3 separate regions of the Homo sapiens genome follow, and all the other regions are linked to region 3. Evidence: fine-mapped expression QTL. A gene starts in region 3. Each other region holds a variant in brackets. All regions are shown on one strand. Distances are between the middles of the regions.

Region 1 (5,000 bases), 22 kb after region 3:
ATGTCATCTCTGTGGACAGGGATTTTTGCCTGTTTTGCTCACTGTGTTGTGTACCCTAGTGCCTGGTGTGTGGCAGGAATTTGTATTGTTGGGTGAATTTGTGGATGAATGGATGATCAAGGAGGCCAGTAAGTGGCTCAGGTGGTCAGCCCCTCATCCTGCCCCTCCCCAACATCTCTGTGCCTCCTGCATGATGGTGGCACAGGCTGGCCAATGAGCTTCTGCATGGAAGATGGGGCAGGCTACTGGGGTATGTCATGGTGGGCCAAGCCAGGGGGCCATGTAGGGTGGTGGAACCAGTCCAGGTATTCCCTTGGGGAACCAGAGGGTTGAGTCCAGTGGGGCTATCAGAACCCACAAGGCCTTGAGAACCAAAGAAGTGATGATTGGTTCAAACAGGAGGGTGGCAAGGCCAGGCCATCATGGGGCAGGTCTCTGGAGGGGGCCAGGCTGGAACTGGGCCAGTGATATAAGTTGGCTCTATGTCCCCACCCAAGTCTCATGTCAAATTGCAATCCTCAATGTTGGAGGAGGGGCCTGGTGGGAAGTGATTGGATCATGCGGGCAGACTTCTCCCTTGCTGTTCTGGTGATGCTGAGTGAGTTCTCATGAGATCTGGTTGTTTAGAGGCATACGGCACTTCCCCCTTCTCTCTCTCTCTCCTGCTGGCCATGTGAATATGTGCCTACTTCCCCTTGGCTTTCTGCCACGATTATAAGCTTCCTGAGGGAAGCTTACTACCCATATTTCCTGTACAGCCTGCAGAATTGTGAGTCAATTAAACCTATTTTCTTAATAAATTACCCAGTCTCAGGTAGTTCCTTATAGCAATGCGAGAACAGACTAATACAGCCGGGCTCCATCCACTGGCTCTGCTGCAGGGCCTGAGTAAACTACTGTCCTCCAGGGACCGGTAACACCAGGGACAATAAGGAGGCTTAATCAGGATCCTCTGATTGCAAGTGACAAAAAGCCAGCCTAAATTAGCTTAGCAAAAAAGGGGACACAATTCCAGGCCCTGACAGTGGGCCCTGGGGCTTAAACTCCATGGGACCCTCTCTGCCTCTCCTCTCTGTTTCTCTCATGGGGTGGACACAGCCAGTAGCAGCTCCAAGGACATGTCCCACAGTGCCTTGGCCAGAGCCAGAGAAGGTATCACCACCCACTGCAATCCAAAAACCCAGGATGGACTCCAACAGGGTCAGCCGGGGCCCCTGCCTACCCATGGCCAACCCCACAGACAGGGAGGTCTGGTCTTCAGCCTGTCCAGGGTCGTGGTGCTGAAGACTTGATGGGGTAGGGGATGCTATAAGAGCCTCCCCCCGAGTGCTCTGGCGTCTTTCTGCATTCCACTCCAAGGCCTCTGCCCACACCACTGGGCCTGGAGCGCATGCTCAAGTGTGAGTGAAAGTCAGTGGCCCCACGCCAACCCCCCACCCATCTGAACTGATAATCCCTGGAGAACTACTGCTGTTTTTTAGAGATCAGTTCTGGAGCCCTCTGTATAATTCTCAGTAGACTGGAGCCCTCATCCCTACAGCAGGGACTCGAATGATGTGCCCTAGGATCTCATCCCAAATAAACTGCCTGCACCCACATGCCAGGCTCAGGCACTACTTTCATGGAATGCAAACTAAGAGACACCACAGAGAGGAGACCTGGGGTTTGGAGAACACACAGCAATGACACAGGTGCATACCGCTCCAAAAGGAGCAAGCCAGCCTTTGGCAGGAGGGAGGCCTGTCAAAGGCATGGGCCCCAGGTATGGGACTGAACTTCAGGGTTAGGATTCTGACCTGCCAAGACAATGATGTCCTCCCAGTGGCCTGGGGACCCTATAGGATCTGCTTCCCCTCCCCAGTCTCCCTCCTCACTCCATTCCAACACACCAACCTCCCAGCTGTTCCTCCAGCTCAACATGCATACCCTGCCTCGGGGACTTTGCATCTGCTATTTCCTCCCCTGGGCCATTCTTCCCTCAGATACCTGCAAGCCTCGGCCCCTCACTTTGCACAAGACTTGACTCAAATGTCACCTTCCTAATGAGGCCAACCAGGTTCCCCCTACCTGCAATTGCAACCAGCACGCCTGCCATCCACCCACCCACACACAAGCACACACGCACGCGCGCGCACATACACACACCCCTCCTGGTCCCCCTTTCTGGGCTTTGCTTTAAAATTCGTTGTTTATCAGGACTATTGTCTGTCTCCCTCAATCAGAATGTCAGCTTCAGGGAGCTGGGGTGGGGGGCGTGTGGACATGGAGGAGAGTCTGGGGGCTTCTGTCTTTTTCACTGTCCTATCCCAAGCAGGCCACACAGGAGGTAGCAGCACAGCTTAGCAAAGGCATGGTGCTGGGGAGAGGTGGGAGTTGTGTGCAACATAAAAATGGCACAATGCATCCTGCCCATCAAGATGACACACTCCGTACATCTGGTACACTAACAGTGCTGTGTTAGAAATCTGACACATACTAGATCGATCTAGTGCAAAATGAAAGATAAATTTATGCCAGTGCCTTCCTGAAGGAGAAGCCCGTGTCTGTAGCCAGCTCTCCACACCCGCAGCGGAACACACCCTTGAAGGACGGCAGACACGGAGGGGTGGACCTGGCTTCGCCCTCATTGCTCCCAACAGTTCCCTGTCTTCTGGTTTGCATTTAAATCCACGCCCAGCCCCCACCCTGATTAATGGTTTTCTCTTTCTGTCGACTCTTTAGTCGGGAGCCGTAGCTTTAAAATCACACAGCCTCGGTGTATTCTGTTACCTAGCAACAGCCATAAATCAACAGAACATGCTGGAATGTTAAAGCAAACCTTCCTGGCTGTTAGATGCGTTGGCCTTTTTTAATCCAAAC[A/G]TGCTCATTTGCCCCACGCCTCGGCTACACCCAGCTTCGAGCCTGCAGCGTACCTGGGTTTGCACATTTTTTAAACCACCTTAGGGTCTGTCTGATTTTTCCGCCTGAGTCTTTTGTGCTTTCTTGGCACTCTGGCCAACACCCAGGGACAGGATCAGGCAGGCTCTGCTGACACGGCTGGGGCAGGACCCATTGGTCTAGCCTGAATGCCTCCGTCTCAGCCCTACAGCCAGGGGGCCCATACCAGCCCTGCAGTATCTAGAAACACAGGGGACGCAGGAGATCCTGGTTCCTTACCATAGGTCCCCAAATCGCCGTCAACCTGGTCCGCTGGGTGGGTTAATATGGGTGTGAAGGCCCTCCCCGGGGTGTCCAGGGGAATCCCTCACTCTCCCCACATTGGACCCTCTAACACATTCAATCATTCATTCACTTATTCAACAGACAGGAACACAGCACCTCCCGCATGCCAGGCCTTGCCCTCAAAGAGCTTGCATCCTACTGGGGCAAGGAGCTGAATGTAACACCGAAGCACTGGTCTCCGAGACGGAGGGCCACCTGGACCACACGGGTGCCAGATGCCCAGAATACAAGAGGGAGTGACACAAACCCAGCCCCTAACTCAGACACTCACAGCCCAGGTGGAGGCCAGCAAGCACCCAGGGCACCAAGCACACGCGGCACGCCGTCCAGGTGGGAGCCCCGGGCACAGGGAGGCATCAGCTGGGAGCAGGGCAGACAGGCATCCTGGGACACAGGTCAGGGATGCATGGGAAGGGAGAAGGCCATACTTGGCCCTTCCTGGAGTGTGGCTGGAGAGCCTGGGGCCAACGCTCATGCAACTGCACCCAGCTGCTGCTGCCAGGGTGGAAGCAAGGGGAAACCTGAGTAAAAGGGTTTTATTCAGAGAACTCTCCTGGCTGCCCTGTCCAGAGGCTGCCCTGAGACCAGGATGGTGGTGGCCTGGCCCAGGAACATACTGTTGGGAGGACTCTGCTGTCCCTGTGACAGGGGAAGCTGTCCACGCAGCGAGGTTGCTGGAGGAAGAGCAACTTGGGGAGGCCAACAAGCTGGTGGGCACAGCCTGCCAACACCCCATCCCACAGCTGAGGGCCCTGCCTCTCCTACCCATCCAGCCTGCCCTGCCAAGGGGCTACGTGGCCTCCACAGCCAGCATGAAGTCCTCAGGCTGAGAGCCACAGTGTGGGGTGAGTATCAGGGCCACACAGCCTGGTCCACTCTGCCACTCGCATGTCTGCCACACCTGGGTCCACCCAAGTGACATCAAGCCATCGTCGGCACAGGGAATGCCATATGGCTATCGAGGAGGCTGGAAGGACAGTTGGCCCCAGAACACAGCAGCTGGGGCAGGCCTGGGGCCCATGCAGACCAGCACCCACGAAAACAGTGTCCCGGGCACTCCCAGATCACCGGTGCCTGGCACAGTACCTGGCATGCAGAGGGGCTCGCAACCTGGGGATGAGTGTGACAGCTGCCGGATCCCACCTGGGATGAGCCATGTCCCTGCCCGCCCCCACACTCTATGTCCTCCTGGTGAGGGAACAGGCACGGGATCAGGTCTGGGTTCATCCCATGCTCTGGCAGTGATTCCAAGAGAAAGCAACATTGCACGAGGGTGACAGTGAGGTGAGGATACTTTCTCCACCTGGAAATGGAGATAGTAGGTCACTGAGCCTTCCTCCAGGGGATGTGGTGAAAATCAGCTAAAAGATGCCAAGGCGCTTTGAAACAGAACTGCTGCCGGGAGGGAGAGGAGGCTCTTCGGCTGGCCCTTCCGAGTTTCTCCTGCTGGATAACTTTTGCGTGGTGTATGAGTTCCCAGGCTGCCATTATAAATTACCACAAAGTCTGTGGCTTAAAACAACAGAAACATGTCCTCTCACAGTTCTGGATGCATCTTAGAGGGCTAAAATCAAAATGTTGGCAGGGCCAGTGCCTTCCAGAAGCTTCAGGGAGACTCTGTCCCAGGGCCCCCTCCCGGCTCTCCATGGCGGCACTCCTTGGTGCCCCTTGGCTTGTGAACACATCACCCCAGTCTCTGCCTCCTCCTCTGTATCTCCCTAACCCCCCTCTCTTTTCTCTTATGAGAACACCAGTCATGGGATTTAGGACCAGTTACC
Region 2 (5,324 bases), 25 kb before region 3:
ACAAGCAGGTGGCAGGGATCGTTTCCATGTGTTCACCTTCACATCCATGGCCCAGTGCATCCAAAAACCTCTCCAGCCTGGGCACAGTGGCTCACGCCTATAATCCCAGCACTTTGAGAGGCCAAGGCAGGTGGATCCCTTCAGCCTAGGGGTTCCAGATCAGTCTGGGCAACATGGTGAGACCCCAACTCTACAAAAAAAAAATACAAAAATTAGCCGGGTATGTTGGTGCCTGCCTGTAGTCCCAGCTACTCGGGAGGCTGAGGCAGGAGGACCGCTTGAGCCTGGGAGGCAGAGGTTACAGTGAGCTGAGATCACATCACTGCACTCCAGCCTAGGTGACAGAGTGAGACCCTGTCTCAACAAAAGCAAAATAAAAACAAAAAAAAAAACCCTCTCCCAAACTTTTTCAAGGTCATTCCTGGCAGTCTCTGCAACAGCTGAGAATATTCTAGACGCTTATGTTCACTATCTAGCTAAGACATGACCTGCCAGAATCATTTCCACACACATGTATAAGCAACCATGCATTTAATTAATCCAACTGGAACCAATTTAAGAGAATTTAGCCAAGTTTGCAAAAGGATAAGATGTCAAATGGATTTCAGGCTGTTTACCTGTTAATCAAATATTCAAAGAGCAAGTGACAGTGACTGCTCTCATCTCACACAAAGGCACAGCCTCATAGACAGACAGATGAGATTGCAAAGTTGAAGCTGTTTCTTTTCATGAAAAGGGAGTTTCAGCCAGGTGCTGTGGCCCATGCCTGTAATGCCAGCACTCTGGGAGGCCCCGGCAGGGGGATCACTTGAGTCTAGGAGTTTGAGGCTGCAGTGAGCTATGATGGCACCACGGTACTCTAGTCTGGGTGACAAGGAGAGACCCTGTCTCTAAATAAATAAATAAATAAATGGAGTTTCAAATGTATAACTTCACTAATGCAAGTGACCCAAGAGGTGCTTTCTAAGCAGGGAGGCCTGGCTCTAAATGTCTCACACCAACATGATGTTCTAAGGGAGGGCTGGGGTCCTCAGCCCTCTGCCCACAGTGTCGCAGAACATAACACAGGAGGACTCCTATCTCACATGGCCACATGGCCTGGAGACAAGCCCAAGGTTTCCCAGCTTAGGCGACTGCCCGGCACACCCTCCAAGGACCCTGAAAGCCAAGGCTTCCTGGTGCACATGGGTGTGGGCTGTGATTCACATCCTGGCTGAGTGACTCCAGTCACTTTACCTAATCCCTCTGTGCCTCAGTTTCCTCATCTGTGAAAAAGCCAGTAACAGTGGCACTTATCCTTATGGTCACGCTGGATATTAAAGTGCTCAGAACAGCACTTGATCCACATGAACCGCCTAGAACCACGTTCTGAGACTCTAGAACTCGGAGCTGCCCCTGCAGCGTCGTCAAACCACCCCCCACTTTTCAAAAGGGCTGAGCTTCCCTCCCCCACACCGACACACCCACAGACACCAAGCACAATTTGACTTGGGAGAGCATCGGACGTTTTCCAGTCGTAGCTTCCCACCCCCATCGAGGCTCATTTTAACTCCTGTATGGTTTTAACTCCACCTGCACTGCCAGGAGGGGCAGCCAGGCCACGGGGGGAACAGACGGATCCTTGCAAAGATCACGTTGCCTCCCTGAGCCTCAGTTTCCTCATCTGTACAACGGAGATGAATATCACTCTTCTCAAGGTGGCATAAAAATCAGGTAAGATTTCACACGGGAAAGCCCAGGACACACTGAAAAGCATGAGGCCCAGGCAGGGCTTGTAGGAACTGATGAATCTTGTCATCCTGGGGCACGTCTGCAGGCCTCCGAGTTCCCTGCCTCCAAGAACATGTCCATCAGCCATCAGCTGACTGGAAATACTGGTACACCTGCTCAGACTCCCCGCCAACGGCCCACTGTCTCCCTGCTTGATGGAATCCTCACCAAGCAGGCATGGCAGGCGCTGCTGTTACCATTCAGCAGATGACAAAAGGGAGGCTCAGAGAGGATACGGCAGCTCACAGCAGAATTCTTTTATAAAGCAAAGTGTCTGCTTGTAAAAAAAAAAAAACAAAACATGCTGGATGGAGGAGTGAGGGATAAATGTGAGCACTGCAACAGAGGCGAAGGGGTGCTGGGCTGATTCAGACCACGGTGCGGGGCAAGGTCTTGGCAGAGCAACAGCGGCTCAAAGCACAGAGGTCCTGCCAGGAGGTCCTGCCAGGAAGCTGTGGCTGGCAGCAGCCCAAGACAAAGACCTGCTAGAGAAAAGAGACCATGGGAAGGACCAGGCCTTGGGGGTCCCTGGGGAGCTGGCCTGGCTCTCACTCTCACCAAGGAGCCCCGGGGTCTTGAGCTGGGTAGAGAGGGTGGGAGCATGAAAGGGGAGCCAGCCACTCTCGGGTCGGTGCCTCCCACTCTGAGGAGGCCTGCGGTGCAGAGAAGGTCCCTCGCACCCTTCCGTGGGGACACGCTGCCACCTCAGCCAACTCCCATTATACAAGTGCTGGGAGGAACCTCCCACCCTCCCGTTTCCATGGAAATCCCCTTGAAATAACCCCATCTCGGGCTGTTGTTCTTCCCTGCGGAGGAAGAGCTCCGGATAAATGTGAGGGAGGAAGGCAGGGGCTCACTGACACCCAGAATGTTGTGGAAATGTGGATATTTCAAGGGCCCAGCGCCAGGTCTCCTAGCTCCCCACCCCCACCCCCACCCCACTCACATGCCAGCAAAGATGGTGACCTGACCTTTGTCCTCCTCCTTCCCCCTGCTTTAGGGGGGTTGCAAGAGACCATTTCCCTGGTGATTTAATGAAAAGGAGGAAACTGGCAACCACATCTGTAACAACATCCTTCCGTCGCCCTTTTGAGAAAGAGGCTCCAAGCTTGGCAGGGACACAGCCTGGGGTCAAAGTCAGGGTCTACCTCGTAGGAACAGCGTGACCTGCACAAGCCTCTGAACTTCTCGGGGTCTCCGTTTTCTCCCGTGCCTCAGCTACGGCTGGAGTAACAGCAGCGCAAGCACATCCCTGCGGGAACCACAACCCATCGAGGTCGCCAGCTCCTTTCCCACAGTGAGAATCGTATGCATCTGCCTAATCACCCTAAATGTGATAGGAAGTTTCTGGGATTCACTCA[G/C]TTATTCCTGATGGAAATATTCTCTGGGCCCTTTTTCAGGAAGCATAGGAGGAGCAGAGGCTCCTGGTACACCCCCGTGGGAGCCGCACTACGACCGGGGGATGCACAGCTGGCAAATGAGAAAACCCCGCACAGAGGAGCTTCCAGAGACCACCTGAGGGCGAGAAGAAAGATCGTCACGGCAGTCATTTATTGGGTGCGTTCTCTGTGCCAGACTCCGTCAAAGCCCTTTGCATCGTTTCCTCAGGTGGCTCTCACCACCGCTGCAGGATTTAAGAACTGTTTGATCCCTGCTTTACTGATGGGTACACTGGGCACAGGCTGGGCACAGTGGCTCACACCTGTAATCCCAGCACTTTGAGAGGCCAAGGCAGGTGGATCCCTTGGAGGTCACACGGAGAGGGGTATTGGAGCGGGATCCAGACCCAGGTCTCCTGACACTTGTCCTCAGCCCACTTAACAAGCTGCTCTGGGACCTTCCTGCCCCCACCAGGGCCGGCCCCACCTCCAGAGAGTTCCAAGCGGCTCCCAGGCAGACCCTCGAGGTCAGCCCGTCAAAACCACTACCATGCATCACTGGCCGAGGGGTGAGGAGGCCACCGCCATCTGGATCGCCCTTCTCTCCCTCCGTCTCAGGGCTGTTTCCTCACTCCCACTGCTGCCACACCCTGGAGTCCCCAGGGCCAGGCCCCACCCTCGTAACCCTCCTGACTACCCAGGGAGGTGAGGCCTCAGAAGCCCAGGGACATTCCCCGGGCCAAGGACTAGAATCGTCACCCGCAAGCCCCTTTCACCTGTGCCTGGCTGTCCTCCTCCCCCCAGTGAGCAAAGGAACCACAAGCCAATGGCCACCACCCCAAGGGGACGTGCTGCAATGAGCCACCTGCACGAAGGCTCACGGAGGTCCTGCTGAACTCCGGGCGGGGGCTGACCCCAGCAGGTGGGGGCAGTGCCCCTGCTGATGTGGCTTTAGTTCTCAACCAGCCAACCTCCATGCCCCAGAGCAGTGTTCCTTTGGGACCCAGGCCAGGTTCAGGCAAGCCTTGGGTGATGCTCGGCTCAGCGGCTGCATGGCTGGCAGGCACAGAGGAGGCCTCCAGAACCTGTCAGAAGGAAGGGCTAAAAACACATAGCCCCACGCAGGCATCACACACCCAACCACACCAAGTCCACGTAGAAGGCCCCATCCTCTGACTCTCCAAGGCCCACTCGTGGGATTTACCTTCAGATACACTGGCACAGCTGTGAATTCGCAGCACCGTGCGAAACGGGAAAAAAACAAAACTAGACACAACCTGATGTTGATCAACAGCCAATTGCATGAATCAACCGTGTTCTGTCCCAACAAGATGAGACCCCTGCGGCAGCTGCAGAGAACAGGCGCGTCTCTAAGTGCCCATTCCGAGAGAACTGCACTTTCACAGTGCACCTCCACATGCTCTCAATCTTGTTTACCCTATGAATGCATGACTTTAATTTTTAATAATAAAATGAGTTCATTTCCACTAAATATGTGCTGGAGAGGAGTGAAAACACAGAGCCATGCTGACGTGAGACATGCGGACCCCCGCCGCCGCCTGGCCCCTGTCGGGAGGGACTCCCGTGTCCTGTCGGCCATCCTCACCCCCACATCCTCACGTGGTTGCACAAAGCAGGCACGAGAAAGCAATATATTCAGCAGGAAAACAAATCTCTAAGTCCCCAAGCACCAGGTCCCCCAGGCAGTCCACGGGCCCCTGCCTGCCACCCTGGTCCCTGTCCCAAGAGTTCTGGAAAATGGGTTCCATCCCGCACAAGGGCCTGCTCTGAATGGCCAGAATCTTCTCTTCTCCTTTCACCCAAAGCCAAATGCTGCCAGGGTATGATTTCCAGAGAGACAGCCAGTCCTGGACAGAGGCACACGGTTCCCAGAGGAGGCTTCAAAACACCTCGCCAGAGAGGACTGAAAACAGCCCCACCCCAATCTGCTGGCAGAGGCTTCGGCGCCACCTCCTCTCCAGGCTTCCCCGGGAGCTGCCGAGCCCCATTTTTCTAGGATTCCCTCCTAATTCTCTTTCATCGAGTTGCCTGTCCTAGATAGCTTTGCGGGTTGCAGTTCCAGCCGCAAAATTAGCTCTGGGAGACACTGGGTATGGTGGAAATAGCATTGGCTTTGGAGTCAGACAAGGCTGGGGCCAAATCCCAATTCCAGCA
Region 3 (5,324 bases):
GTGTAGACTCAACCACAGGTAGAACAGGAGTTTGTGCACCTGGTTCTTCCGCAAACTGAATTTTAGCATCCACTGTTTGCCCACAGGCTCTTCCAGTTACAAGGCATATAAATAATAACAATGCCATGTGTTCAATGCCTCCAACAACCCAAGCACTGTGCTGGGCACTTTTGATATTAGCAAAATCACTGATCATCCCAGCAACCCTGTATGAAAGGTCGTTATTATTTCTCCCTTTACAAAGGGAAAGTGAAGCTCAGGAAGGTGTAGTAACTTGTCCAAGGCTGCACAGCAGTCAGGAGTCAGAGGCAGGACTTTAACATGATTCAAGTCTGACATTCTGACATTCAAATCTGTGACCTTCCCTGTGCTCTGAGCATGAAATATAGTCAGGATGCAACAGTGTGAAAGTGTGTTTTTCATTAGGGAGGCCAGAATTCTACCTATTATAATGATTATTATTGTTTCTTGTTCCGATCCTGCTCTCTGCATCCGCAGCACCTGAGCCCTATGCCCTGCACACACTGGCACTCGGTCTGGACCAGGCACAAGGCCAGGCCTTGGTTTGTTCATCTCAAGGTGGGGATAAGGCGTAGGTGAGCCTTCGTATGAGGTCCCAGCACACAGCAGGTGCTCAGCATCCTTTGGCTGCACGTTAGCAATGCATAGCTCTGAACGGCTCCTTCAACACCGTTGCACCTGCTCCTCACAGAAACCTCCAGACCCTGTAGGCAGGATTCACTCCCATTTTACAGATGGGGAGACTGAGCCCTGGTGAGAAGACAGACCTCAAGGTCATATAGCTCCCTGATAGAATTCAGGCCGCACAAGGGCAGGGAGTCTTTGTCCAGTCCCCAGGGATAAAACAGTGCCCGGCATGCAGCAGGTGCTCGGTAAATATCTCGTGTCTGGATGAAGGATTGGATAGCACTGCTCTGACCTCCAGAACTGTGCCGTCCCCGTTCCTGTGCCCTGCTGAGGGCTGGTGAATTTATGAAAGAAAAGGGGACGGGCAGGGTGCAGAGGGAATTAATGTTTGAAAATGTCCACCATGGCGCTTTTTACGCCTGGTCCCACAACGAGCCCTGCGCCCCATCCCACCGTCATCCCCAACGTAGAGATGAGCAAACAGAGGCTTGCTCCAGGAAGCCAGACCACAGCGAGCCTGGGAGCAGCGGGGCAACCTGCCAAGATCCGCTCTCGGCCCGAGCCAGGCCACCGAGGCACGGGCCAGCAACCCGGCGGCTTCCTCCAACCCTCTGTCGCTGCAGGCTGCGAGCAGAAACCACATCCCGGACCCACGCTGATCCCGACTCAGCCTCGCCGAAGCAGGCGACAAAGGACCGCTCTCAGCTCCCCGGGCCTCCCAAAGCCGCGGCCGGGTCAGAGCCCCACCGGCCCGGAGGCCCGGGCAGCCCTGCCCCTCTCTCGCACACACCCGGCGGCGAAGCGTGCGTGACTCAGCGGTTCTCCCGCCGGGAGCGGGCGCGGCCCCCGCAGCCTCCCTCCGCCCAGGTCCCACGCCCAGCCTCTGCCTCCCGGGCCAGGGCGCCCCGAGCCCGCCCGCGCCCGCGCTCGCGCTGCGCTCCCCGGGCCTCCGCGGGGCTCCGGCTCCGCTCGGCCTCATTTCCGGCAGAGCCAGGCTTCGAGGAGGCGGACCCAGCCGCAGGAGCCCGGTCTCCGCCGCCTGGCCCACTCGGTCTCCCTGACACAGGCACCCACGCGCACCTGCCCCGCGGGACCCGTGCCCAGGGCCCCTCCCACTGGGGCACCCACCCGGGGAATCCGCGCACACTTCTGCGGCCGGGCCGCCAGCCCGTGGGTTAGCGGCTGACAGTCCCCGCACTCGGGCAGGGCTCCAGCACAGGCGGCCCCGAGCCCAGACCTCCCGGTCCCCATCCTCCATCGGGGTCACTCCGCGGGCCCTGCCTGCGCACGGAAGCTGTCCCCACTGTTCCCCTAGCGAGGCAGACCAGGGGGCCCCCGGAAGTTCCAGGCCTGTAAGAGAGGGGCGCTGACCCACCAGCCTCGGGGGTAGGGTGGGGGTGGGGGTTGGGCTTGTAGGGCCAACTTAGGGGATTTTAAACAGGGCCTGTTTGGGATGGCATGTCCCACTTTTTTGGAAAATCCCGACAGTTAGCCCAGCTGCTCCTGTCTCAATATAACTCACCAGGAATAAAAAGGCCAGCCCCAAACCAGCCGCCTTCTCCCTCCCACTCAGGGACCCTGCCTCTGGAGGACAGGGAGGGGCCCGGGCAGGCGGGCCTCCCAGGAGGATCTGGCAATGGATTATGTTTTTTTCCCCCCGGGTCCCTCTTCTTCTCCAGGGAGAGGGCAGCCTAGAAAATTCTGCGGGCTTTGGGCAGGGCTGAAATGGCAAATCCAGGATTTAAACCATTAAATTTCCCCGAGATTTCTTCACCAGATTAGCCACAGCCGTGGCCTTTTAAAAAATTATGGTCAGGGCCGAATCAGGATGCCACCTGGCTTGGGAGAGGAAAGCTGCCTCCCGGAGGGCGGCGCGGAGGAGGGCGCTGCCCTGTGCCGGCGCTGGGCAGCGGAGGCCGGTACCCTCGGGCTCCCTCCCTCCTGGGCCCCGGGCAGGGTGGGATGGGATGGGGTGGGGTGGGGTGGGATGGGGTGGGGTGGGGTGGGGCGGGGGGACACGACACACATCGCGCGGTCCAAACCTTCGGAGGGCATTCGGTGCGACGGCATCCCCACGCCGCGGCCGGCCGGAGGGGTCTCAGACAACACGTACGTTACCTTCAGTCACATAGCTGTGGTCCCGCAGGAAGCTGTGGTTAATTTTCCGCGTGTCCGTGTCCTCGCCCATTGAAGGCCGTGCCCGGTGCTCTGGGCATGCCCCGCCGCCACACACCGATGCAATCCGCAGAGGTCGCGCCGGGCGCGCGGGCCATGCCGCCGCAGCCTAGCAGGGGCGCGGGCCGCCGGGGCCCCGAAGGGAGGGCATCGCGGCAGGGGGACGGGCGGGGGCGGCCGGGGGCGGGCGCCGCGGTCAAGCGAGCGCGCGGTGGGCGGGCGGCGGCCGCGGGTTCGGGCGGGCCGGGGCCCAGGCGCGCATCCCGGCCGGCCCGTGCGCGCTGCGTCCGTGCGCCCGGCGGCGGGGCCTGGTGCCGGTGCGCCTGGCTGCGGCGACGGCGGCGAGGGGACGCGCGCGGCGCTGCGCTGCGCCGACCAAGCCGGGGCCGAGCCGGGCTGCGCGGGCTGGGGCCGCCGCCGCCGCCGCTGTCGCAGGCCCCTCCCTCGCGCCGCCCGCTCTCCGCCCCCGCGGCCCTGCAGGTGGAGCCGGCGCCCAAGCCGAGGCTGCACCGCCGTGCTCGGGCCCTCGCGGTGGGCACCTTGGTGCTGGGTGCGCCACGGGGGAGGGAGGAAGGAGACCGCCAGCTTGCGGGGAGAGGGTGATCAGCTGAGCTTGGGGGGAGGGTACCTTGGGTGCCCAGGTGCTCCAGTTATGGGAGAGAAGGCCAAGAGCCGGGGTGCTGGGAAGGGGGCAGGAGGAGAGCAGCCTCGCAGGCAGAAGGCAGAAAGGACTAGGAAGGAAGGAGTGGGGTCGCAGTTGAAGAGGGCGCACCTGGAGAATGGGGACTCGGGGGAGGGGAAGGACACTGTCTCCCTTCATTAGTAGAAGAGGGTGGGTCGCGCAAGTTCTGGGGCCCGTTGGGAGCATTAAGTACATGTGAAGAAGCTGGTGGAGGGGGTCCAGCAGCCGACAAGGCAAAACTGGATGAAATGGCTGGAGGGGTGATTGGGCCTCCCCCAGGCAGGGCTCTGAGATCTCTCCTCATGCCCACCTCTCCTGACGAGTGAGAAAGTTAAAGAAATACAGAGCTAGGTACCTCCAAAACCAGGCTGGAAAATGCGTCCCCCTCCTCCCTTCCCTCCCTCCCCTCCAAACCCAGGGCTCTGCCAAACAGGAACCTCCCTCTGGTAATCAGCCTGGCACATAGTGGGCCCTCAAAAAATATTTGCCTCCTGTTTTGCCAAGCTGCCACCTCCTCCACCGTGACCCACCGCCTAATGAATCACAGTCCCCTGCACGGGACACAAGCCCCAGTGGGGATTCAGAGGTGTGGGTGAGGAACCATCAGCCCTCCCTAGGAGCTCAACAGAGCCTTCCTGGAAAGCGAGGGACTCTGTGGCTTGCCTGGGAGGGGTAAGTGCAGTGGGGTGACCAGAGCTGCAGGGGCTCTTGGGTCTAAGGCATCAGTGGAGCCATGCTCCAGGTGGGGGCTGGTCTGTAATGGCCTCCACTTGTTTCAAATGGTTCTGGGGGAACTCCAGACAGCTCCCCAAACTGCAGTGGAGGTAGGAGAGTCCAAAGGCGTTGGGGGCAGGGAGACTGGGGCTGTGGGAAAGACGAGGGAAGGTGATGCCGTCTCAGATTTCTTGGAGATTGAGAGGGAGTTTTTGAAGCTACAGCTTTCGTGCCTTTGAAATCCCCAGAATGGACCTATGAGGAGATGAAAGCCCCCCAGCAGCCCCACCAGCACTCTGCAGGCTGTCATGCAAGGGCTGGCCTGGGGAGAGGCCCTGGGGCCCTGCCAGCACCTGCTTTGGCAAGTGCCCTGCCCTGTTCCAGCCTCTACCTTTTCACTGTGGAACAAGCCAAAATCTCCCAGCTGTGCAGACTCCATTCAAGGACCAGGTAAATGCAAGGGCCGGAAGGATGTGCTTGTTCTTTGTCACTTTCTACCCCGTAGGAAAGTGACCGACACCCACATTGGCCCCCACCCACCTGGCATGTTCTCCTCTCTCTCTCTCACCTGTCTGCTCACATGCCCCCCACCTCACATCCTAAGGCCAGCCCCCCACTCTCTGTCCACACCCCCTCACCTCTCTAGCTGGAGCCAGCAAAATGGCTATGCTGGGAGAAAGACAGGCTGGGTTCAAGTCCTGACCACAAGGGGGCCCAGGCACAACCTCATCTGTAAAGTGGATGTGATGGCAGGAGTGGCCCCACTGGGTTGGGGTGGCCAGTCCTGCTCAGCAGGGGTCAGGCCTCCTGGGAGCTCTCTTGTTATCATGCTGAGGCCCACCCTCCCGCATGTTCCTCAGCCTCCCTCTCTGATCATGGAGAAGTCCCCTCTCCCTATCTGTCAATCCTGCCAAAACACCCACCCTATGCTGGCATCAGCCTCATCTCCCGGGATGTCCTGGACTACAATGAAAACAGCCCCACTCTGGCCTGACACAGTACATCATCCCTTTCATCAGCTTCTGAGCCATGCTGGGGACCCTGCAGTGGGTGGTCTTTCCAACCTGACTGGGCCCCAAGGCTTGCATCCATCCCCTCCTCACCC

Which allele goes with the higher level. Alleles are on the strand shown, and positions count from the first base shown. SD is a standard deviation of normalised expression in the study named. Not every link is listed here.
As copies of A replace G in region 1, the expression in esophagus muscle of the gene that starts at base 3,221 in region 3 goes up (moderate effect, 0.64 SD a copy in GTEx).

The links. PIP is the estimated chance that this variant, and not a neighbour inherited with it, causes the effect.
Region 1: its variant is fine-mapped to the expression of PPP2R2C in esophagus muscle (GTEx, PIP above 0.99). The same link has a PIP of 0.9 or more in unexposed skin.
Region 2: its variant is fine-mapped to the expression of PPP2R2C in left ventricle (GTEx, PIP above 0.99).

What each region holds. Positions count from the first base shown.
Region 1 is chr4:6,491,112-6,496,111 of GRCh38, forward strand. It overlaps a transcript of PPP2R2C not described here. Among named protein-coding and RNA genes, the nearest start is that of PPP2R2C, 21 kb to the left of the region's middle. The variant A/G (reference allele first, on the strand shown) is at 2,860.
Region 2 is chr4:6,444,828-6,450,151 of GRCh38, forward strand. The region is part of intron 1 of PPP2R2C (protein phosphatase 2 regulatory subunit Bgamma); the gene reads right to left. Among named protein-coding and RNA genes, the nearest start is that of PPP2R2C, 25 kb to the right of the region's middle. The variant G/C (reference allele first, on the strand shown) is at 3,132.
Region 3 is chr4:6,469,394-6,474,717 of GRCh38, forward strand. PPP2R2C (protein phosphatase 2 regulatory subunit Bgamma) reads right to left here and starts at 3,221. Exons shown (of 9, transcript NM_020416.4): 1 at 2,767-3,221. The coding sequence starts at 2,836. RefSeq lists an enhancer at 700-1,530.